Linked DNA regions of Homo sapiens: region 1 is linked to region 2. The links come from fine-mapping of genetic effects on gene expression. Tissue or cell type: whole blood. Region 2 holds a variant in brackets; the other region holds the start of a gene. All regions are shown on one strand. Distances are between the middles of the regions. Region 1 holds the start of CLIP4 (CAP-Gly domain containing linker protein family member 4). Region 2 overlaps CLIP4 (CAP-Gly domain containing linker protein family member 4).

Region 1 (12,540 bases), 45 kb after region 2:
TTACCCTCTTTGCCTAAGTACATGGCTTTTTTAGCAAGTCAGTATATTTAACCAAAATAAATACATCAATAGCAGAAGAATGCTAGATATCTAAGCACCATTGCTTTCTAAAAATAAAGTCCTCTAAATCCATCATGATGCTTAAAATGAACATTTTAACATAATATAAATGCTGACAGCAGAAATAAAGCATTTAGCTTAAGAAGCAGAAAAAGCAATAAGCAATTGTATTTTTGAAAAAGGAAAACTTTAGCAATTTTATGAAAACCATAAAAATGGTTCTAAGAAAGACTATGAGTGCAAAAAAGGCGTAACAGAGAAGTCAAGTTACCAGTTCACAGAAAATAAGCACAGCTACTTCACATACCACAGTCTGAAGGCATTGGTGCTGCAGAAATGGAAAAGATAACTGGGGTATCAGAAGCAGAAAATATAAATGGGTATCTTCCAAACAAAGGATTTCCTTCTAATGGAAAATCTGGAAGGTCCTCTATGGTCATCTTCTAGAAAGCCACCTATAATAAGAAAGAAAAAAAAAGTGTTTCTACTTTATTTGTATGCAACTTAGAATGACTGCCTTCAATAACTGCCTAAAAGTTATTTGACGTCAAATCTGCTGACATTTTCAGTAAGGATCTTTTATGAAAGGGAAAAAATTCCTTTTGGCAAAACTGTTGTTAAAAGGCATACATTGCTTCACACCACCTCTTATACCAGTCGGTAGCACATGTAATCTCTCTAGACAAAGCTCAAAAGGAATATAAAATAGGTGAAAACACTTTAAATGCTGAGCTAATCTAAATGGGTGAAATCCTCCTACTCATGTAACAAACAAGGGCGTATTAACCCTTGTAGATGGATCTTTAACTTCCCATAACACTGGCACAAGTTACATCATTTGTCATCCAATAGCTCATGCCATGTGCTCATCACATGAAGATAATCTACCTTAAAATGTTTCCATTATTTTCTATCCCAGAAAACTTTACTGAAAATTAATCATATCCCTCTTACAAATCTAAGAGTTTACTAAGATTGTTCAACTTAACAAGGTCCGAGGTATGTGAGTTCTATCCTGGCCAAAGATGGAAGCCATGCCTTTTAAAGCACATGGCTTATATTACCTCTTTTTCCCAGAAAACATGAGTGCTTAGAATAAATTTGCTCTAAATTAGACTTTGTACTACACCCTAGCCTACATCTCAGAAATGATGTAGAAAGCAGAGAAACTGCTAGTAAAACCAAACTTATGAAGCTAAAAGCCTTCCAGTTTCTTTTGTATCCGATCTTTACTATCTGAAGTATCATGAATTCCTGTTTTTAAAATGTAAGCAAAACATTATAAAACTAAATGAAAAATGAGTTTAGATTATTTCAGTAGAAAGCACAGAATAAAAATAGGTAATCAATGGCTTGATCTGGTAGTAGACAACACCATACTAGCTACTACTTAATGTGTGCTCTGTTCTACTTAACCAACCCTATATCTAACTCAATTATCCTTACCATCAGTTCCCCACTACAATAAAACAGTCATTTCATTGAGCTCACTGTTGTCTTCCTAACTTGATTCATGTTTTCTTAATACTGGCAGGAACTGGTAAAAAGTAGGAGGCTTTCTTTTTCCTCAAAAATCGTATGCTTATATGGATATAGATGTTATATATTAGGTAACCTAATCCAGTTGTTACTATTTTAAGGTATTCACATTTTCTTGGATGCTAAAATTACTTACCACCAAATACTTAGAAGCATTTTGACATTAACCTTGCCACATAAATAGGAAAATGACAAGTTCATGGAATTAGTGTTATAGAGCAGCGGTGATCTTCCTCAAATACTATCAATTCCAAACAGTAATGAGTATTTATTAAGGAACCACTATATACAAGACACTATTCTAGATGTTTCAGCAAATACAAAAATGAGTTAACAGATGGTCCATGCTTCTTAGGTAGTTTACAATCTATTAAGGTGAATAAAATACCACTAATAACTATAGATTATGAGGCAGAATGGGATCTGCTCCATCACATAAGTACCAGGAACATTTGCAGTTGGAGCTTCTAAGAATCATAAATGGTGAAGAAGGTATCATCTGTGATGAGTCTTGAATGATGAATAGGTATCAATATAAAAGGGGATCCCATTAAAAGAACAGTAGGCTGGAACTTGGGATATGACTAGGAAAACAGTCAGAGGTGAGGCTGTAAGGGCTTTTTAGGGCTGTACTGAGGAGCAAATACCTCATCAAAGACCAAACCACTTACTTTCATGAGCACTGGGAAACTACTGATTTTTTTAAAGAGAGTAACATGATTAAAGCTGTTTTAGGAAAATTAATCTGACTATAATCACGGTTTGGGACTCAGACATGTTTTTATACTCTTAATTCTTCAGCAAAAAGATTCAGTGGATATCTGTCTGAGTCGGTTAAGAGGAGTCACCACATGACTTCCCTTTCAAAGGGTGGAGTCTCCCATTCAAAAAAAAAAATTTTAAGTGATCCCCAGAGCACCTTTCATTTCCTTGTAAACTGTTGAGATCCTCAAAGATACGAACTCTATCGTACACAACTAGCAGTCACCACAGGAGCTAGAATAGTGTGTTACACATATTTAACTAATATTCAAAGCTTAGATTCAAAGTGGAAAGAGGATTCATGCAATCAGATGTAACCAGCTTCATTCTTTTACATATTAGATACTTCAAGTCCAGAAGAAGCTACAATATTACCTGACCAATGCAGTGAACATTCTTTGTATTTTGTCTTTGTTGCGTTTTTCTCTAGTTACATTTCCTTATTTTCGTGAAAAACTTAACATTCTACCTTTTGTCCTCCCAAAGGAAACTATGTACCCCTATAAACTTCCTTATAGTCTCAGATTCATTTCCTAAAAGCAATTCCTGGATCTGAAGACCTACAACACCTGGACTCTTGGTCAAATGTCTAAGTATACTGATCTGAACTGAGTACACACTTTCATTCCAAATCCAACTATGGTTAACTGGTGATAACTGATTATAAAGTAAGCCTCAGGTTAAAAATATATATATATATATTGGCCCTGCCAGGCATGGTGGCTCACACCTGTAATCCCAGCACTTTCGGAGGCCATGGCAGGTGGATCACCCAAGGTCAGGCATTCGAGACCAGCCTGACCAACATGGCAAAACCCCATCTCTACTAAAAATACAAAAAATTCGCTGGGCATGGTGGAGGGCACCTGTAATCCCAGCTACTCAGGAGGCTGAGGCAGAAGAATCGCTTGAACCTGGGAGGCAGAGATTGCGGTAAGCCGAGATCCCGCCACTGCAGTCCAGCCTGGGCAAGAAGAGCGAAACTCCATCTCAAAAAAAAAAAAAAAAAATTGGCACTAATCAACTGTCTACAGAACAGGTGCCTCTGATACTAACAATAGCTAGAATCAAATTCCCCAAACTCTGATTTCTATAGGAATTTCACCCTACTCATCACTCCAAGTTAGCTGTTAGCAAAAGCATCTTACATAACGTGGCTCAAATACCTTGTGATTTTTTTTCCAAGACTCCTTGGTCCATGCTTTAACACAGAGCAGTAATAAATGGGGATGTCCACTAGCATCTTCAGGCTGGTTCAGGACTGTCTGGACCCCATAAAAGGGCCTTACTGAAGCCAGGAGACTTCAGATTTGAGATATGGTTCAAGAGTGTCCTTGAGTTATTCAACTAATAGGAGACCAAAGCTGTGTCTACATTAGCTGGAATCATGAGGCCCTTTCATTCAATTTCCTGTAATACTTTGTTATGAGTCATCATTCTCCTGAGATTCCAATCTCACCACGTAAGTATTTAAAGCATAACTCCAATGATCCTTTTATTTGCTACCTACATAACATCTGTACAATCTACTAAACAGGTATTTACAGTACTGAACACTTAGTTGGCCTTAGAGAGAATTAAAAATTGAAATACCTGCCCTGAAAAAGCTATTTATGCATTTAACAAATATTTATTCAGTTTTTCTTACTAAGTTCTAAGCTATGCAAAGGTAAAGAAACCAGATCTGTCCTTGCCCTCATATAAATTACAGCCTAGTGTTGATTCCTACCAGAAAGTTGAAAGTAGTAAGTGCTATGACCAAGGACAGCTGAGTCCTATGAAAGCACAGATTCAAGAGGGTCAACGAAGGCTTCCTGGAGACTAATAAGTTAAAGCTGTGGCATCTGACCAGCTAACTACTAGCCACATGTGACTATTTAAATTAATTTAAAAATTGGCCAGGTGCAGTGGCTCATGCCTGTAATCCCAACACTTCGGGAGGCCGAGATGGGCAGATCACTTCAGGTCAGGAGTTCGAGACCACCCTGGCCAATATGGTGAAACCCCACAGCAAAAATTAACAGGGTGTGGTAGCAGGCGCCTGTAATCCCAGCTGCTCGAGAGGCTCAGGCAGAACAATCGCTTGAACCTGGGAGGCAGAGATTGCAGTGAGGAGAGATCAGGCCACTGCACTGCAGCCTGGGTGACAGAGCAGAGCGAGACTCCGTCTCAAAAAAAAAAAACAAAAACAAAAAAAAGAGAGAGAGAAAAGGAAAAGAAAAAAAATATTAAAATTTCAGTGCTTCCACTGCTCTAGCCCCATTCAAGTGGTCAAAAGCTATATGTGGCTAGTGCTACCATATTGGGTAATGCAAAAAGAACATGTTTCTGGTCTCCGAAAGCTCTTCTAAACAGCACTGAAGGAAAACAGTGCAGCTCACTCTCCAGATGAGAAAACAATATACAAATGCCTGAAACAAGACACAAATAAAGGTTAACACACTAAAGCAAGCCTATAGCTCCATAGTTCATTATAAATAATTAACAAGGGAGCAGTAAGCCTAAAAGTAACCAGAGTTTGAGGTTTGAACAGGGAGAAAGAGTGAAGTTGATTTTATATAATCTAAAGATCACTAGTTTCAAACACGTGTCAAAATTGGAGTTGTCATAAGCTATGAGAGACAACATAGGTCACTTTTTTAAAAGCCCTTGCTGGTGGGACTGTATGTGGTAAACACAAAATGTCTGAAATGAATCCTACAAATAGAATACCATGGGCTAAATCTTCTACAAAACAGAAGTAAACACATTCCATGCATGGCTAGACTCAATCTTACAGTCCAGATAGACCGTATCAAATGAAAGCATTTAAAAAATGCATCATATTTACGAAAGCAAAATAAGCTGGAACCAGGATGGTTCTCCAACATAAAAACGCAGACCAACTAGACTCCAGCAGGTTCAAGTCTCTGCTTTCCTCCCCAGTTGCTCAATGCCCCGCACCACGTGATCCTGTGCTGTTTAGACGACTCACTTTAAATTGTGCACAAGATTCACAAACAACAAACGTCAAAGTGAAAGTGAAGTACAATTTAAGTGCTGGCGGATGTTCCTGAGGAAGGTGTTTACTGAAACCTTTCAAAGGCGCCCGTTTTATACGATGATGGTGCTACAATATGAACGCAGTCTAGTATCTCAGAACATACAGCAAGTTATTGTCCCATAGGAACATCATCCTCTGATACGTATCAAAACACTGTCTCAGCACAGAGCTGAAAACCAGAGTCTGGATGACGTGAACAGCCTGACATCTAATTCAAAGCTCTACCATCATAAGCAGTGAATGGGATCCTTAAGGATGCGGGCTCAGCTCCAGCGCTCCTTTCAACTTCCCCTCCCAGGTGCGGATGGTTCAGAATTAAGGGATCTCAGGTAGCCAAGGACTGCAAGGACAGCCATTTGGTTTAGCTTTGAAGACCCACTGGCCAAAGGTTTCTCGACAATTTAATGCGCAAGGGGAGTCAAGTGAGAAATGGGAAGAGGCCGCGTTGGAAAGCCACTGCGCGTGCGGGGACTCTCGGGGCAGCCGCGGCTGGCGGTCGTGGCCCAGAGCCCAGCTCCGCCGCCGGGTCCCGCACACCCCGCGCCCCTCAACCTAAAGTTGGGCCGTCCGTCAGCGGCCGCCACGAGGAGTCCCCATCCCCGCCGGGTGGGCCGCTCCGCCCCGAGAAGGCCTCCCCGCGGCCAGCGACACCGGTGCCCACGGGAGGCGGCCGCGGGGCTTCCACAGCCCCCAGCGCCTCTGCGCGACCCTCCCGGGGCCACTGACCTCCCCGCGGGCCCCCAGGGCCGCCCACCCCGGCCCCAACCCCGCCGCCGGCCAGCCCGCGGCCCGGGGGGGCCCCGCGCGCCCCCGGCCCACCTGCCTCCTCCGGGTCCTCTCGGAGCGGCCGGCTGGGGACGCGGGGGCGCGGAGGAAAGGCCGAGAGGCGCGCTCCCGCCGGCGCTGTCTCCCGTGGCCGCCCACGGAGCCTCCCGCCGCGCCGCTCCACACCTCTCCGGGCCCCTCCCGCTGCCTCCCACGCGGGGTGGGCGCGCGCGCAGTGCAGGCGGCCGGGCGGCGCGCAGGCCTCGGCCACGGCCCCGCGCACGCGCTGGGGACTCGGTGGGGACGGAGGAGGCAGCGCGCGCCTGCGCTGGCTCGCCTGGCTCCCGCGCCCCCGCACTCCCCAGCAGTCAGATGATCGGGCGCACGCGGGGCCGCGACCCCGGCTGACAGCGTCTGCGGGGTGTCGCAGTGTTACCTCCCCCGCCGCGAAGCCAGGCGGCCCCGGCACGCCGTGCGTGCCCACCGCCTTCACAGCCCTCAGCCTCGCGGCCTCACGTCTCTAACCTGCGGCGCCCCCACCAGCTGCTGGGGCCGGGGACCTAGTCTTACCCGTCTTGGGCTCCCCAGAGTCCAGCCGAGCGTGGTCAAGAGTACATCCACCAGTTCCCTGCTGGCAGCGCTTGCTGTAAAAGGCCTAATCCGTGCTACACCCACGTTGAGCAATTAGTTCATATCTCCTGCGGCTTTGCTGCCTCTTCACCCACGTTTTCTCCTGACCCCTTCTCCGTCTCCCAAGGACCAGACAGGGTGAAACTGTGCACCTAAAGTCGTGAACTCTGACAGCCTGACTCTCTGTCATCTGGTAACAAGAAAGCGTTACTGGACACATAGTGAGTCCCCTTAATGAGGAGACCTAGTAAGACCATGACCGAAGTTTGAAACATGGAGACAACAGTGTTACATCTATCAGCTGTCTCTGAGGCCTACAGCGGCTGCTTCATAGAGGCTGTACTTCTGTGTTCAGCGCGCACAGTGCCTGGCAGGAACAGATGTTGAATGAACGTCTGTCAGTGTCTCTGCAAGAGCAGAGGTAAGCGCTCACCGCACCCCGGAGCATCTTTTCCTGTTAGAATCATTGATTTCAGGGACTGGAAAAAGCCCCCTTCCCACTTGCCTGAATCCTCCTTACAGTGTCTTCCCACCAAGCAGTGGTTGAACACCTCCACTAACAAGGAACTCATTACCTTTTAAGGCAGCCATTTAATCTTTGATCAGCCTTTTGGAAATTTTCTACCTTAGGAGCTAAAATCCAGCTCCCTGCATCTCTCCCTCACTGGATTTTGTTTCTGCCCTGGGGACTCTTAAGTCTGACTCCAATTCATCCAAGACACACATTACCTGTCCCTTAGGCTACTCCTGATATGACCTGGTCACAATCCCACTCACCAGCATGTTGAGGGATTCTCTTGGATGCATTCCAGCTTGTCCAGAGCTCTCTTAAATGTGATTATCAGGAATGAGTGGGTGGCCTGCCAAGTGCGGAGAGGAAAGAGACTGCCACCTCTTCTTAGGTCCTATGCTTAACAACATTCACCATATCAAAATAGTTGCTAGGAGCAGTCACATCACATTGTTGAATCGGGTGGAGCACACTTGACTAAAACCCACAATATTTGAATACATGACCATCCCTGACCCTGGTCAGCTGCCAGTTTCTCTGTCTCTGCAGGCTCAGCATCTGCGAGTGCTCTCAGAGATAATGTGACACGGATACTTCCTCCTCCCTCTGAAGAGTCCACCTCCCTTTCCCTGCTTTCATCATACCCTCTTCTTGTCTGACCCACCCATCTCTTTAGCTGGTTAAAAGAAGGAAGGCAATCTGCCCTTGGTTGGCTTCAAGCACCTATAAATGAGGCCAATTGTCATTGAACCACAGAAAGTCATAAAGATCTGTGTGTAACAGAGTAGCTATTGGTGAAGTTTCCAAACGTATACAGTTCACTTTTATTGCTGATTTAAATTATCCATCTGAAATACCACTATTAGTAGGTGACAAGGCATGGCTAGCTCAGTTGTTCTTAGTTATAATAAAGATCTCTGTTAGAACCAGCCAGGCCACTGGCTTTATCTGCTACACCCAAACACTGTATGATACATAGGCAAATTCCCAGGATACCAAGCCACCAGAGTCTCCCACTCACTTAGTTGCCTTTGTTCAAAAATCTGACGTTACTTCTTTATACCATCATCAAGAATGCAAGTGCTCGTTGGAGTCATGCTTCCTAGAATACCTCGTGACATACAAGCTTTAGAACCAGGTATTGCCCAGTTAACCAGAGTGAGACTGGACAATGATATGTGGCCAGAACTTGGAACTTGAACTATTCATTGGGGTGGGAAGGCACATGGGGATGTGGACCAACTGTAGCTGCTGAGATTCAATTCTATCTGGAGACACAAAGTTCCTGAAAAGTATAGCAATAATCCACAGCGTCAGGAGGTGATCAACTTACTGGTCAACATCACAGTGTGGAGAAAGGGCATTACTCACTGACCACTGTAAGGCACTTGACCTATGGAAATCTTGTCTTCACTTTACAAATGAAGAAGCAGACTCTGGGAGGCTGCGTGACTTGCTCCATGTAGCCAGGGGCAGAAATAAGATTCAAACCTAAGTCTGTCTGATCTGAAGGCCTATGTTGATTCACTACTTTGCTAACCTACACAGGCTGTCTTTGGGGGCATTAAAGACCCAGAATGGCTGCATAGAGCAGCATTCAGGAATTCAGACACTCGGCAGCAGGAAGATCTGTCAGCAGCTCTCAGGACCCCGACCATGATAAAAGGGTTAGAGGAAATAGCAAAAGAAGACAAGGTCACTGCTTTTACATGGACTGGATATGGGATGGAATATCATCAGTTTCTAATTTGTGAGTGTATAGGGGGCCTAGGCCCTTAGGACCATGAGAGACACCCAACTGTCAGAATTGGGGCACCAGATTGGAGTTCAACTAGCAGAAGTGCTTAAATGCAAAAGATCAGAGCACTGGGCAGAGCCCCTAATATCTTCCTGTCTGTGATGTTTACAGGTGTGATCATCAGCATAAAAAGCCCAACAGAATCAACAAAGTATTAGAAGTAATGTTAGCTCAGCAAGGTTGCCAAGTACAAGATCAGTTTCTAAAAATCAATAGTTTTGTCTACATCAGCAGTAAGCAACTGGGAAATGTAACAGACAATAAGAAACCATTCACAATAACAATAAAGTTTAACAAACTCTAAAGCATAATATCCAGGAATTAACCCAACAACTTGCAAAAACTTTAAGGAGAAAATTTTAAAACTCTATTTAAGGACATAAAATATTGAATAAGTGGAGAGATACAGCATGGATAGGATGACTTTACATTGTAAAAGTATCCATTTAGTCTCCAAAGTAAATGTTATGGCAACCAAAATTCCAGCAGAAACTAAATTTTTAGGGAACTCAACAAACTTACAAAATATATAAGGAGAAATAAATTTTAAACAGTTAAGTCAATTATAAAAACCAGAGCAGACCTGCCATGCCAGATATTATGTCATTGCCACATAGTAATAAAAATATTATGGTACTGGTATAGGAACACATAGAGCAAATAGGAAACAGAATGAAGAACTCAGGAGCAGACCCACGTATAAATGCTACCTCCATTTACACAAAGGTGGTACCACAGATCAATGAGAAAAATATAAATTATTTAGAAGACGGCATTCGGGAAACTGGCTTTAATTTATCAAGGAAAAATAAAGTTGAGAGCCCCATGTTCTGCCATATACAAAGGTGAACTCCAGATAAATGGCAGACCTACATATGATACAAAAGAAAATGCAGGAGACTATCTCTATAATGTGGGTTAGGAATTTACTTCATAAAACAGGTTTGCAAAAGCACAATCCTTGAAGCAAAAAAAAATTGTATGACTTGACTGCATCACAATTAAGGGTTCTGTTCAGTTAAGAATACCATAGAAAAAATTAACAGATGGCTGACAAATTGGAAGAAAACATGTGCTATGTTCAAAAGCAACTAGGGATTAATATCTGAAATGCATGAGGAACTTTTCACAAATCAAAAGGAAGTCAATATAAAATATTTTAAAGGCCAATATAAAAATGAGAAAAGTATAAGAATAGACAATTCACAGAAGGAAAAGCCAGAATGGCAAGCAAGCATTAAAGAGATGCTCAACCCCACTTGTAATCAGAGTGGGAATATAAAGAGTGTGACCCCATAGCCACCAATATGCTGGTCTATGTTTTAAAACCCGCTCCCCAGGGAAGGAAAAGTCCTAACGTACAGTGTTTGCCAATTTCCATGGTGCAAATACTCTGAGCACTGCCAGTTTCCAGCTACCAGTGTAGCTTGAGGTCACTGAACAAGAAGTTGGGAAGAAATGTGCTTTATCAGCTCTCATGAACTGTTTTCAACACACCACTGCTTCACCCACCAGCATGGCAGAAATCAGAAAGATAATCCCAAATATTGGCAAAGATCTGGGGAAAGATGCACTGCTGATGGAAATTTAAACTGGTAAATATATTCTGCAGATCAACCTGGCAGTGCTTAGTGAAAAAAATTAGCAGTATGCTTTATGACTCAGCAGTCACCCTCCTGGATATGCCTCAGAGAAACCCTTACAGTGGTTCTATAAGCACCTTGTTCATGCAGTTTCCAGGAAGTCAGTTTCTCATTCACTAGGTGACCTTATTCAGTCTATGGCTTTAAATATTGACCAGGCGTGGTGGCTCACACCTGTAATCCCAGCACTTTCAGTGGCCGAGGAAGGATCACTTGAGGCCAGGGGTTCAAGACCAACCTGGCCAACATGGTAAAACCTGGTCTCTGCTAAAAATACAAAAATTAGCCAGGCATGGTGGCGTGCACCTGTGATCTCAGCTTCTTGGGAGGCTGAGGCAGGAGAATTGCTGGAACCTGGGAGGTGGAGGTTGCAGTGAGCTGAGAGCATGCCACTGCACTCCAGCCTAGGGGACAGAGTGAGACTCCATCTCAAATAATAATAATAAATAAACAAATATCATCTCTGTTTTCCTGATTTCCAAATTTCTATCTCCAGCCCTGAACCTCAGATGTATATCCAACTGCCTACTCAACATCCATTCTACAGCATACATTACATATCACAAATAGAACATGTTCAAAATGGAACCCTTCCCCATAACCTTCCCTATGTCAGTAAATGGCAACTCTATTCTTCTTTTTGCTCACTGGAGTCATCCTTTCTTCCTATCATATTTTTGGATTCTCCAAACCAAACTCCCTGTCTTCATTCTTCAAAAAGTTTATGATATCATTTATTAAGTAAATTCACATACCATAGAAATCCTTACAAATCAGTAGCCACTGGAGACCCCAGGAACCTCCTACTGCTTCTACCTGGGCTTGCCCTCCTCTAATCCATCTCCTTTGTCAAGGTTGCAGGTGGGGACTGCCTGCTGAAGTAGACCACAAACTGAAGAGGACTCCATTGAGCCGCACGAGACTTATTATCTGAATGGGGCTTCTCATTCCTGGTTGTGCATTAGAATCACCTGGATATCTTTTGCAAAATAAACCCTTAAAGACCTCCTCAGATATTTCCATTCAGTTGATCTAGTTTAGTTTCATGCTATTCTATGTTTATTCTTTTTTTATTTTTTTGAGACAGAATCTTGTTCTGTCACCCAGGCTGGAATGCAGTGGCGCAATCTCAGCTCACTGCAACCTCCACCTCCTCGGTTCAAGCGATTCTCCTGCCTCAGCCTACCGAGTAGCTGGGATTACTGATGCACACCACCATGGCTGGCTAATTTTTGTATTTTTAGTAGAGACGGGGTTTCGCTATGACGGCCAGGCTGGTCTTGAACTATTGACCTCAACTGATCCACCCACCTCAGCCTCCCAAACTGCTGGATTACAGGCATGAGCTGTCATGCCGGCCCTATTCTATAAATTTATTTTCCCTTTTCTTAGCCCTAGTTCCTGAGAAGACACTAACAAAGGAATTTGCATGTTCCTACATGGGGCACTGCTCCCCAGACCCTCCAGTTGCTGCCACTCTCAGACACCACATGATGCAAAGTCTTCTTTATAATTACAGCTAGATTGGAGGCATATGTTCTAGTGCTCTATAACTCTGTAGGATAACTATAGTTAACAATAATATATTATATGGTTTCAAATAGCTACAAGGAGGATATTGAATGTTCTCAACACAAAGAAACAAATGTTTGAGATGATGGATGTGCTAATGACTGTGATCTGATCACTATACATTATATGTGTTGCAACATCACTGTGTACCTCATGAATATATGCAATTATGATGTATTTTTATTTTTTAAAAAAAATTGAAGTCTTCTTAAAGCCT
Region 2 (12,540 bases):
ACTTTCCCAGTGGATTTTCCTGCATTTTTTGATATTCAAATCATTCTTTATCTTTAAAAAGTCAATCCTGACAGGCTCATTTTCTTTCAACTGTTTAGTGACCTAAATCTGGAAAGCCTTCATTTGTCAATCACTTCCTCCAGCATATCTTATTACCATCAAGAAATCCTTCAACTCTTGAAATATTTGCAATTTCACATTACAATTCATAGGCATCATTTTTACATGATATACAACATACTGCAATGAGAGACTGATGGACACAAAGAATATGATTTTATGAAGAGAATGGATATTTGAATGAAGTAGTAACAGACAGTTGAGAGGGAGTGAATTCTAGAAGTAATCAGTTCATTAGTAGTAAGTGCCTAATAATAGTAAGAACTAAGAAAGTGAATATTATGCTAATGAAGATTACTTGAGCAGTGTGTGTGTGTGTGTGTGTGTGTGTGTGTGTCTGTGTGTGTATGTGATTAACCTAGTCAGTGAGTTTTCCTAGAGTTTCTCTAAAGAAGTTTTGACTGATTCATATATTAGCAGAAGAAAGGTATTAAATAAGTGAAAGTTAGGCAATAGTAGGCGGGTGTAGAAAGCCATCCAAGCAGAAAAAATAACATGTGCAAAGATTCTGGGATAGGAAGCACATTTTACAAACAGAAAGGGGTGGGGGGAAAGGCCAGCCATAGTCCTGAGAAGGAAGAAGATGCAAGGTGTGATTGTGACTGGACACTACCTTATTAAGACTGTCCTCAAGCAGTCCCTAGTTTAAAATTCTTCCATCTTGAAGATCAGTGGTATCTTTCAAGAGTTCCAAAGCTGGTTCAGATTAGAAACGCCTCAAAATCAGGGACCATGTCTGTTTTATTCGCTTATAGAATGCCTAGCACAGCATAAGTGCTAAAAGACACTTAATAGTATTTGATGATGATGAATGAGACAATCAGAAGATGACAGGAAGACAGCTGGATTGAGATAGCAGTTCATTTAGAGACAGCCCTATTTTTTTTTTTTTGAAGAAGAGGGGGCTGCTTTTTAAATGCACCACCTTAAAGAAAACCAAATAGAAGGCAATCAAAAAAAAGTAAAAAACGTGTGCTCCAGAAACAAAGCAAGAAGGAAAAGATGAAACCATGAGAAAGTGGCTTGACAACGTAAAGGAGGAGGAAAAAGCTGTTACAGCATAAAACCACTGAACTAGGAATCAGATTGGATCAATATTTACCGTGCCTAAAATATGCCAAACTATGTACTCTGAGTAATCAAACATGAAAAGCAGAATCCCAGTCCTCATGACTAGGAAACAAACAAAACTTGTAAGAGACTGCTGCAATGTTTTGATGAAGATATGCCCAAAGTAACATGAGAACACAGAAGATTCACTGGTGACTCAGCATGCATTTTACTCCCAAACCAATTATTTACAAGATGTATGTCCTGACGAAGGTCCCTGAAGCTCTTCTAACCGTTATAGGGTTACGGTTAAGGGCACACATGCTGATACTAGACTACCTGGGTTCAAATCCCCAGCTGGGAGCACAGCACATGTCACCCCTTGTGACTTACTTTCCTCATTGAGGGAACATGGTGCCTGCACCACAGGGTTACTGGAGAGCAGTAAACAGGTTAATACATGAAGGGCCCTGCAAACAGACCCCAGCATGTATAAGCACTATTCGTAGTTACTGCTTCCTTTTCTTCATTTATAAAACAAATACAAAAAAAAAAGAAAGAAAGAAAGAACAAACCATCTAAAAGCAAGGGCTTACAGAAAAAACAATTACAAAGTAACACACCTGGGCTGAGTCCAGCTCCTTGGCTAATTAGCTGTATGACTTTAGCTAAATCACTTATCTCTTTGAAACCCGTTTCTTCATCTGCAAAATGGGAATGATCCTAATAACTTACAGCTCGCAGGGTCTGGGGGAATTAATGAGGTATGCATCTAAAGCACACTGTACAGAGCCCACCCACTCACTAAATGCTCAACAAATGTTTGTAATAGTTATTATTCTCCAGCTTACCTGATCAATATTAGGATCAAATGAAACAACACTTAAGTGAAAATACTTTATAAACTACAAAGTATTGTATGTTAAATTCTGTTATCACCATAAATATGAAGAAAATTATGTCAAGTATATCATAGAAGGAAATTAATACTAAACAAATATGTAATGATTCACTCAGAAAAAGAAATTGAGGGAGAAATGGATGTAAAACTTCAATCTGCCAGGAGATAGTCACAACAGTCTAGTTGTAAGGGAAAACTAGACAAGACTCCCAGATTGCGATCGTAGGTCTAGTCTCATGAATGTGATTATGCCATATATGTTATCTCTCATTTAAAGATTAGTATCCCATTTCCCATCCGCTAAAAGGCACACCAAGCAGCTTCTTCCAGAGCATAAGAGAAGCCATTTCACATAATGATACCTGGAATTTTATGAGGACTTTGTTTCTGCTCAACTTATTTTTTAAAACCGGATGAGGTGGTATGAAAGATACTATCTTAAGAAGAAACACCAAGGAGATATATTATATAAAAATCCTTGAAGTTTCACTTCCCCCAAAGATCTACTGCCTATCTATTTTTGAAAACTAAAGAAATCAGAGGAAAAAGCCATTTTGGTTCCATTAGGTTTGTAGGAGAATGAATGGGGTGCCTGCTGGCAGGAAATTTAATGTAGTTAGGATGTGACTGAAGCAATCAGAGAGCATTTTTACTTTTGTTTGCATGACAGATTAAGCTTGCTGCTCTCACTGTACTTAGCTGCAAACGCCACTTCTAATAGCCTACACATACTCATAGGGTTTGCAAATGAGGAATAAAGGAGGTTTTTAAAATTGCAAATCCTCAGCAAAGCAAATTTAGCTTTCCATGAGCCTTCTCTCTGAAGAAGGTGGTTGGTTAACCCCTTGAAAGAAGACATGAGCTACAATCAGAGCATATCTTTAATATAAAATTAGTGTCTCTATTAACCACTGCAGATTACAAAAAGTTTCTGTAAATAAACATAAATTTCATTCTCTCACCTTTGCACCCTGGATGGGGGAGCAAATATTCCATATCTTGGAGAACAGCTAAAATACTGCACACCTCCAACTGAACCATCATTCTTGCCATGGGGTTTTTCAAGCTCTATACCATACCAATATCCTAGAACATGAATATTGCATTTCAAAAGCATCTGTACTTTATCCAAAACTCTTATGCTACTATACAAAACCAAAGTCGAGGTGTTTTAACATTTCCATAAATGACCAAAATGAGGGAAGATCATGATACTCATTAAGATTTCAAATTATAAAATTGTAAACTTTGAAAATTCAAAAAGTGAACAGGAAAAACATTTTACAAGCATAATTGCAGAGCAGTACATTAAAGGAGGAAAATAAAATGCACAAACACAAATTTGGCAAGAATTGGCAATTGTGTAAACAGTATATGACCAAAATATATCTAAAAGCTGCAGTGAAAAACTGTTCTTGACTTGGTAATATAGTGTTTCAGTGAAAGAAGTGAAACATAATATTGAGATTTAAAAATCATAAAATGAACATGCAATCTTTTCATCTTACTCACCTAACATTAGAACACCACAAACAGTGCTCAAATAATTAAAGAAGGACAAAAATATTATAGAAAATACCACTAGACATCATGATGAGTGCTTTTTCTTTTCTTTTTTCCACCCAAGGTAAAAAGAAAAATCTTTTTTTTTTTACCTAAATGAAAAGGTTTAGGTTAGCTAATAGGGAGAATTATTTTAAAGACTTTTTGTATTTAAAAGGACCTACTCTGAAGGAAATAACAGGATTTCCTTTTCTAGACAGCCTAAAATTAAAGTAGCAAGGTTGCTTTAAATGTGGTTTTACCCAATATAAGGTAAATGGACACAAAATCCTAAAATAAGGATTTTCTAATTGAGGGTGCCTCAAGACCAATTAGAAGTATCTAGTAGTCCATTTACTTGTGATTTAAAAGGAGTGTACAGTAGTAATTGGATTTGGTCTCTTATAATCAGTATCAAGTAAAAAAACAGGAGATAGATATCAAGAAACTTATTACAAATTACAAAAATAGTGTTTCTTCCAGATTACTAGTTCAAAGAGTTAATTATATGCCTTCTAAAAAACCAACTCACAAGTTCTTAATTTTTTTCCTCTATGTATAAAAAGATGATACCTGAGTCCATTTCCTACTATGTAATACAAGTAATGTTACAAAACTATTGTTAAGCTGCACTAACGCTCTGAACATAGGTCATCACATTTCCACATGTCCTAAACCAGGTTAGTCTGGTTGCCACTGTTATTTCTCAGTGCTACAGTTACAATTTTCCAAGTTTTACTTGCTTCTGCCTTTTATGCTTTCCTATATAATTTTTGCATTTTCCCATTTTAATTTACCATATAATTGCTAATGTTAACCATGTAACTCTTGGAAACATGTAGCATACAGCAGAAATACATATGACAAGTGTTAACAATAAAGACTACACTTTGGCAGTGGTGTGGTATGGATATCTTCCCATTTAAATGTTAATTTTCTTTCCAAGGTGGCACTGATAAAAAATGCTGATGAGACCAAATATGACCTCCCTCAAATCTAGATCTTATAACCTCCAAATACTTAAGATATTACCACTGTTCTGTAGCAGTGATTAATTTTTAATGCTACTACTTCCTTACAGGACAGAATGTTTTTAACAAAAAAGTTTCCACTTTTTATTATATTTGCTTACTACTTCCCAAATTTCTAAATGCTTTACATTAGGAATTTAAAAACTGAAATCAACCTAAAATGAAGAATTATATCCAAAGAATCAAACCATTCTATCTTGGTTTAATAACATCAGAGAAAGGGAACTCAAAAGACAAATAGTAATTGTAAAAAAATAACCTACCTGTGCGGTTAAGTTTTTATTTGAATCCTATATTAAGTATATCCTAACTAATCTCAATTACTACCTGGAGACCTAAGAAAGTCATGAATTATAAAACACCTAACTCAAATCACGCAGTTGGCTTGCAATTATAAGTGGTATTAGTGAAACAAGACTGTGTTGGGAGACAGTCGCCTATGGTCCTGTCATGTTTCCGCATGTCTTATGGGTAGAGGCAGTGACTACTTTCGTTCTAGACTACCTTTTCATAAACATCTGTATAGGGGACAGCCTTGGAGGATAGAGCTAGCATCTCCCACCAGAGCAAATGGCAGGGATGTGTACCATAAGTTCAAAGATTCAGATTCCCTAAGCTCTAGGGTCCTCTCCTGGAACAAAAAACACTGGCTGTGCAGGTGACACCTGGCTCGCTCGCTCTCACCCTGTGGGAATTGGCACTAAGGGAATAATAGTTCAAGAAAATGCTGATACTCTGGCTACTGCTATGACTGTGAGTACTAGAGTGCTTTGTCTCAAACCTGTGATGACTCTAGTACTCACAGTATCTTCCACCAACATCTATGAAACTGTGGCAGGCGAATTTGTTAGCTTGCAAATAGGGTAAAATCTCAGATCCCTCATAGTTCTTGGCTAAATGCTACAAACTTTTTTTTTTTTAATCAATGTTCTAGATAACCTTTTCCTAAAATGCTGCAATGCCACCATGTGTTAAAATAGCATATTGCTATCTAAACATACAAACTTGGTTTTGTTCAACCGACTTCTGTTTAAAATTATAATCATTGACAACACAAAAGAAAGCAATCTGGCTGGGCACGGTGGCTCACACCTGTAATCCCAGCACTTTGGGAGGCCAAGGCGGGCAGATCACCTGAGTTTGGGAGTTCGAGACCAGCCTGGCCAACATGGAGAAATACCATCTCTACTAAAAATACAAAATTAGCGGGGCGTGGTGGCGCATGCCTGTAATCCCACCTACTCGGGAGGCTGAGGCAGGAGAACCGCTTGAACCCAGGAGGCAGAGGTTGCGGTGAGCTGAGATCATGCCATTGCACTCCAGCCTGGGCAACAAGAGCGAAGCTCCGTCTCAAAAAAAAAAATAGAAAGTAATCTTTACTTTTGGAAACAATGTTACGTATAGATTGGAATGAATATATAAATACACAAACATGTATTTTTAAGGGCCCCAAAAACATGTATTTTGAGCCCTTTTGTGTGCTTTTCTCTGCAAGCCACTCTTTTAAAAAGGTATACAATTAACTCATTATTTACTACTTATTTTAAAGATTATCCGTAGCAAAAATCTAATCCTAAAATGTTTGCCTGTCACTTAGCACACCCAGCAATCAGTAAGAGTAAAATTGGAGAATGACAACTAATTTTTAACACCGACCATTTAAAACACAAATGGCAAGAAAAAAATGTATGGGTAACCATCCACGTGAGTAAACAGTCTGAGTTTTCATCATCATTTCACATTTTCTGTACTATAGCTGCCATCCACAAAAACTGTTCATCAAGATTTCTCTACAATTAAATTCTATTTACATGTAAAATTTTAAACCTTTTGTACTCTAAAGAATTCAAGTTAAGAAAATATGCAGATGAGTTACCTGGAGCGAAGTTTGTTGTCCCAAAGAACCTAATGGTGCCCAGTCTCTGTCCTACCACTAACACTCTCTCTCCGAGG[C/A]GGAGTTCCCCCTCGCAACGGCTATTATTTGCTGTAGATGTTGCTGAGGAATTCAAACCTGTTTAAGTCAGGGAGGGATACAGGGGCAGGGCAGGAAAAGAGGAGAAAAAACAAAGGGAGAAAAACTCAAAAAGCACATTAGCCAAAAAATCACACTAGGTATTCTAACTAGTCTAGTTAGTTGGTGATTTTGATATCTGATGCCTTTCATCACATAAGTCATCTACAGTTGTGTTTCTCACATGTGAGGTCAAGCTGCTCAAAGGAAATGTGAAGAGTTTCCTGGGAAAATTACTGCCATGGGAAATTCACAAAACCTGATCCCTGGTAAACTACCAACTCTTCCAAGATTGCCTGCAGCATCTCTACTAGAACAGGGGTCACAGCAAACTGTTTCTGCAAATTGCTGGACAGTAAATATGTTAGGATTTGCTAGCCATACCACCTCTGCCACAACTATTGAACTCTGCTGTTGCAGCATGAAAGTAGATATAGACAATATATTTTTTTCAAATGTGCATGGCTGCATTCCAAAGAACTTTATTTACAAAAACAAGTGGTAGGTCAGATTTGGCCCATGGGCCATAGTTTGACAATTTCTATTCTACTAAAATACTAGAATTATAGTATTAATAGTTCACTTAGACTCAGTGTAAATTATATAAAAAGTCATGTGATTTGACTTTTTTTTTTTTTTTTTTTTTTTTAAAGAAACAGGGTCTTGCTGTGTTGACCAAGCTGGTCTCAAACTCCTGGGCTTGAGTGATCCTCCCACCTCAGCTTCCCAAAGTGCTAAGATAACAGGCATGAGCCACTGTGACCAGCCAAAAGTAGTGTGATTTGAAGGTTAAATTGCTATACGGTTCTAATTATCCTAAAGTGATTTTGTTATTAAGAACAAAACCACTGCCCTGTCAACCTGATTCAAAACTAAACCTTGAAATGCCCACTATTAAACATAGAAGTCCTAGAGAAATATGATCTAGAAAGCTGTTCAAATATAACAGCTGAAAGAGAAGAAGTGGGTGCTTGAGCCTTGTCCCATCAGTACATAAACAAAGATTTGAAGAGCTGCCATCTGAGAGGGAGTAGAGAACTCTGGAGGAGGGCATGGGATGGAGGGTAAGTCATACTGTGAAAAAAGAAGAAATCAAAAACACAGCAACTAAACAAGGAAAATAAACCCATGGAGAAGGTCTGGATTATACCAGTAAGTCCGAGGCCCTCATCATAACCAATATTCTATAGCACTTCATAGTTTACAAAGTGCTTTTCCTAAAAATTATGCTGAAAAATAAGATACAAACTCAGGAATTAACTAAGACACACTGTTAACAGCCAGTAAGTGGTACACCTAGATTAAAACCAAGACTCTGTGATCAGAAATCCTCAGGCCCGTCCCCTTGTCGCCTGTAGACAATGAACCAAAGATGGCAAGTTCAACAGTGGGACACAGGCTGGGCATGATGGCTCATGCCTGTAAATCCCAGCACTTTAGGAGGCCAAGGTAGGAAGATCACCTGGGTCCAGGAGTTGAAGGCTGCAGTCACTATGATTGCAACACTGCACCCCAGCCTGGGCGACACAGCAAGACCTTGTCTTTAATAAAAAATAAAAAGTAAATAACAATGGGATATGATGAGGCCGAGGTCCCTACCTTTCCCATTCCCCGAATCCTTTATTTCCACTCTTCTTTCTCTAATTTTTTAACCTAACTTTCCATTATTGTTCGTTCTCTGCAGTCTACATCTCCCTCAAATGCAAATCTATAAAACAAGTGGAATATCTACTCACTAGAGAAACATGTTTTAAGTACATGTCTCTGGGGTTCCCAACACAGACTTTCCCATATCTCCCATTCTCGGCCCATCTCCCTCTTTGAAAGGTCCTCTTTCTCACTCTGATAACTCTCTTCATCTTCACTGTTGTTTAAGTCGACATAACCCTCAAATTTATTTTTTTAAATGGTAAATATATAGGCACGCTAGACTACTTTGTTTAGAAGGTTAAAAAAAAAAAAGTAATTCCATACCCATGTATAAATTTTAAAATCAAGTAAATGTCAAAAGTGCAAATACCAAATGAAGGGGGCCTTAAAATGTGAATGAAATTTGGACAAACAGGATGGCTGTGTCAGCACTGTACCTTCTCACCTCTGCTCCTCACAACATAAAGAAAAACTGGTTGGGGTATGGAGAGAGGAAGCCACTCAGAGAATAAATATTCCAGGCAAACAATTTCAGGGAAAACTTTCAGGTTCTCTACTTTTAGGGTCCCAGTTTTTAGGCTTATTATGTCAATGTTATTGTTGAGAGCTTTGGAGGTTTCTTCCCATCAAGTATTTTTTTAGAAATCTGTCATGAATATTTTCCATAATAAAATGTTGGTTCACTACAAGAACTATTAATAGAAGCACTAAAAAAAGAATCTGGTAATAAAGAGGTTCATGAAGAACGTATTTTGCCAAGATGGCTTTTGCCTTTCTGGACAAGTTCGCTATATAGGCAAATAAGTGAACTGCAACAGACAAAATCTATGTCATTTCGAAAAGAAGTCTGATAAAGTGTTTTACGTATCTTTACAAATAACTGAAGAAATGTGGACTGAGTGAGATTATGCAGGTTCACGGCTAGTTAAAAAGCCATATCAAAACTGGCTGGTATTGCCATCCTGGGAGAGGACCCTCTGACCTTCTCCTAGGTTTTAAGCAAACATAGTTTTAAAACAATCACTTGAATAAAAACACAGAAAGCATGCTTTTTAAATATGAAGATGACACAAAGGCCTGTGAAGAAGCTAAATTCAGATGAGGTAAAACCACTAAGAATGAATTACATGAAAATAAATGCAAAGTCTTATATCTGAGACGGCAAAACAAAGAGACCTTAAGGCTTAAGGTTCGGGGGAGGTGGGGAAGAGTAAAAGTAGTTCAATCTGATTGAAGTAAAGGGTTCCTTCTACACATTTAAAAAGAGCAAATCTACTTACAAACAAACCAAGATAAAAAACACCAAGAAAGCCTGGTTGAAAAAGCCATAGATACCAGCACTGGCTCTGGATGAAAGGGAAGGGCTTTTGCTCATTGTCTTCTTGTTACTGCTGATTGCATTCTGTTTCTTGGGGTAGCTCTGTCTGTGTTCCAAAGAAGATGTAGAGGAGCAGCTGCTGACAGATCCAAGCAGGGCAACTGTAACAGATAAAGAACGTGTCAAACGGTGGAAAATAAGATGTGGACCAAGAAGCAGCTTGTCAAGGCAAATCTTTCTGAAATTCTTCATTTAACTTCCTCAATTATGGATTATCTAGTGTCAAATTAAATGCCTAATTTCATCCAAATAGCAATTGTAGTTTATATATAAAAGATTTTATAACACAAGCAATAATATTTTAAGGATTCCCACGGTAAGATCACAATCTTATGTAAGAGGTATCACCACATCAATTGATGTGAACTGACTACCTAATCTAATGACCATCAGTCACCTCTCACCTTAGATGACATAGTAGAGTCCCCTTTTATACAAAAATTAAACATGATATTAATATGTTTTAAGGCAACAAAAGTTTAATATTAAGACATTTTGAGTTAAACCAGAAGGCAAGAAGGAATACTCATGCTCAATTCATCTAATGATTTGATAGCTAAAGGCAAATGAAACATTTGTGTAGAGTGCTCTATATTATGGAATTTCCGTTTATTTTCTTAAATCTAGTCCAGTAGTTATCTAATTTAAGTAAAAGAATCATAATGCAGTACTTTACACACAAAAAATATAATGTATATAGCTTGCTATGAGCTGCTTCAGTGATTTCCAAGTTTAATTTTTACTATAATTTTTCCCTTGCCAACTTTAAAACTTAACCTCCATATAAACTGTTTTCCTACCATATTTTAAAGTTCCATCAAAAGTTAAATTTTGAGAAACAGAGGTTACAAGGTATATTACCATCTTTCTCTGTCACAGTTTTAAGTTCTTCACCAGGAGGCAATGAAAGTGTTGACTCAGAAGCACTATCTTTTTTTGATGTCATTAATCCTTGGACACAAAAATAAAACACTTTAAGCAAGAATTTTAACATTAAACATAAAATGTATTTTTTAAAGTACATGCATCCCTCATTATCGAAATCTCACTCACTTCTGAAAACATATTGGATAACAACTGCACAGACATATGAGGACATGTTTTGGTATAAGCACTAGCATACGAGAAGGAGACAGTAACAGTGGCTACAAAGATCAATTAATGTCTCATCAAGATGATCACATTCTGAGATGGGTCCTAAGGGACAGGTCAGATTTCTTCCTGAGAATACTAGCCGTATGGTCAGGAAGAACTGAGGGCAGGCATTCTTGATGGACAAAAAGAAAATCTTAAGACACAGAAAATAGTGAGTAGCTTGGCTGGAACAGAGTACTTATGAAATGTAGGAAAAGCAAGACTAGACAGACAGGTCACAGTAACACTTCAGACAGGGATGCCAGTGCCCAGCTAAGGACTGAGAACTCTTCTGTAAAGAAGGAGCCTCTGCTGGGCTTTGAAAAGGAATACTGGCATGAACAGAGTCTAGTTAAATAACACTCTCCTGACAGCAGGGCTGCAACGAAACCACAGCGGGAGAGGCTGGAAGCAGGGACCAGTCAGACATTATTAGCATAGTCCAAGCATGAGAGCCTGAACTCCAACAGCAGAAACTGAATGAAGAGGGTGGAGAGGAGACATTTTGTGAAGGCAACCTGAAGAGTAAATTTTTATTTTTCATTACATTTTTCAGTTATAAAATATTTTCTTTAAAGTTTTTATAAAAAATAATACAAGGAGATTCCCTGTACATTTTGACTAGGTTTCCTCCAAAGGTAATGTTTTGCAAAACTGTGGTATAATAAGTATAATATGTCAACCAGGATGTTGGCAGTGATACAATTCACCAGTCTGAGATTTCCACAGTTCTGCTTGTACTCTTGTGTGTGTGTGTGTGTGTGTATACACTTGGGTGTATCATTTGGTTGTTTTTCATATCTTCTATTTCTTGGCTGAAACTTTCTTTTCATTTGTTTCAAGAGTGTTCACGTTTGATTCTTTTTTTTGTTCAGAAACAGGGTCTTGTTCTGTTAGCCAGGCTGTAGTGCAGTGGCACAATCATAGCCCATTGCAGCCTAAACTCCTGGACTCAAGTGATCCTCCTGCCTCAGCCTCTAGAGTAGCTGGGACTACAGGTGTGCACCACAATGCCCAGCTACACCCTTAATTCTTGGAGTGTGGTTACATTACTTAAAATCTTTATGTGTTCATTGCAATGTCCATGTCATCTCAAAGCTGCTATGCTTGGACTGTCTTTTTCCTTGTAAGAGGTGTTGACTTTTTCATATTTTGGGTAATTTTAAATTGTATCTTGTGTCTTTTGAATATTATGTATGGACACTGGAATAGGTCTTGTTTAAATCCTATGGAGGATGTTGACTGTTTCATTTTAGCAGGCAGTCAACCCATGTAGCCTCTGGGCAGAAGTTCCTGACCACCCTCTGTGCACTGTGGTTCTGATGTGGGTTCCGCTTCCGCAGCCTCTGCAATGCTGTTTGAATTTGTCTCATGTGCTGTGCAGCCCAGTAGTCAGGCTGGGACCCAAGCAGTGGTCTACCAAGGAGACCAAAGGCTTTGGTCAGATCCATGCATACACCACTTGCAAGAAGACCTAGGAGTTCACAGCCAAAATTGTGAGGCCTCTTTCTTGAGTCCCCTCCTCTCTATGATTTCCCTGACACTTCCTGCTCCTGGGCATCCCTTCCCGGTATTCTGAGTAGAATGTCTAAGCTTTCGTTTCCTTGCTCTGTCATACAATCCTGAGACTGATTGTGCCTCTGGGGCCAAGCAGTGAGAAAACAGAAGAAAAACCAATGTGGATTCCATCTATGTCCTTGGACCAAAGTTTCTCTGGTCAGAG

Evidence for each region. PIP is the estimated chance that this variant, and not a neighbour inherited with it, causes the effect.
Region 1: it holds the start of CLIP4, and the variant in region 2 is fine-mapped to the expression of CLIP4 in whole blood (INTERVAL, PIP above 0.99).

Annotation. Positions count from the first base shown.
Region 1 is chr2:29,109,349-29,121,888 of GRCh38, reverse strand. It overlaps CLIP4 (CAP-Gly domain containing linker protein family member 4), which reads right to left and starts at 6,474. Exons shown (of 16, transcript NM_024692.6): 1 at 6,224-6,474; 2 at 368-515. The coding sequence starts at 500. LOC105374386 (a long non-coding RNA gene) reads left to right here and starts at 7,145. Exons shown (of 3, transcript XR_007086265.1): 1 at 7,145-7,220. RefSeq lists silencers at 5,824-6,063, 6,254-6,613.
Region 2 is chr2:29,154,448-29,166,987 of GRCh38, reverse strand. It overlaps CLIP4 (CAP-Gly domain containing linker protein family member 4), which reads right to left. Exons shown (of 16, transcript NM_024692.6): 10 at 10,545-10,634; 11 at 9,641-9,784; 12 at 6,521-6,655; 13 at 3,034-3,157. Among named protein-coding and RNA genes, the nearest start is that of CLIP4, 45 kb to the right of the region's middle. The variant C/A (reference allele first, on the strand shown) is at 6,598.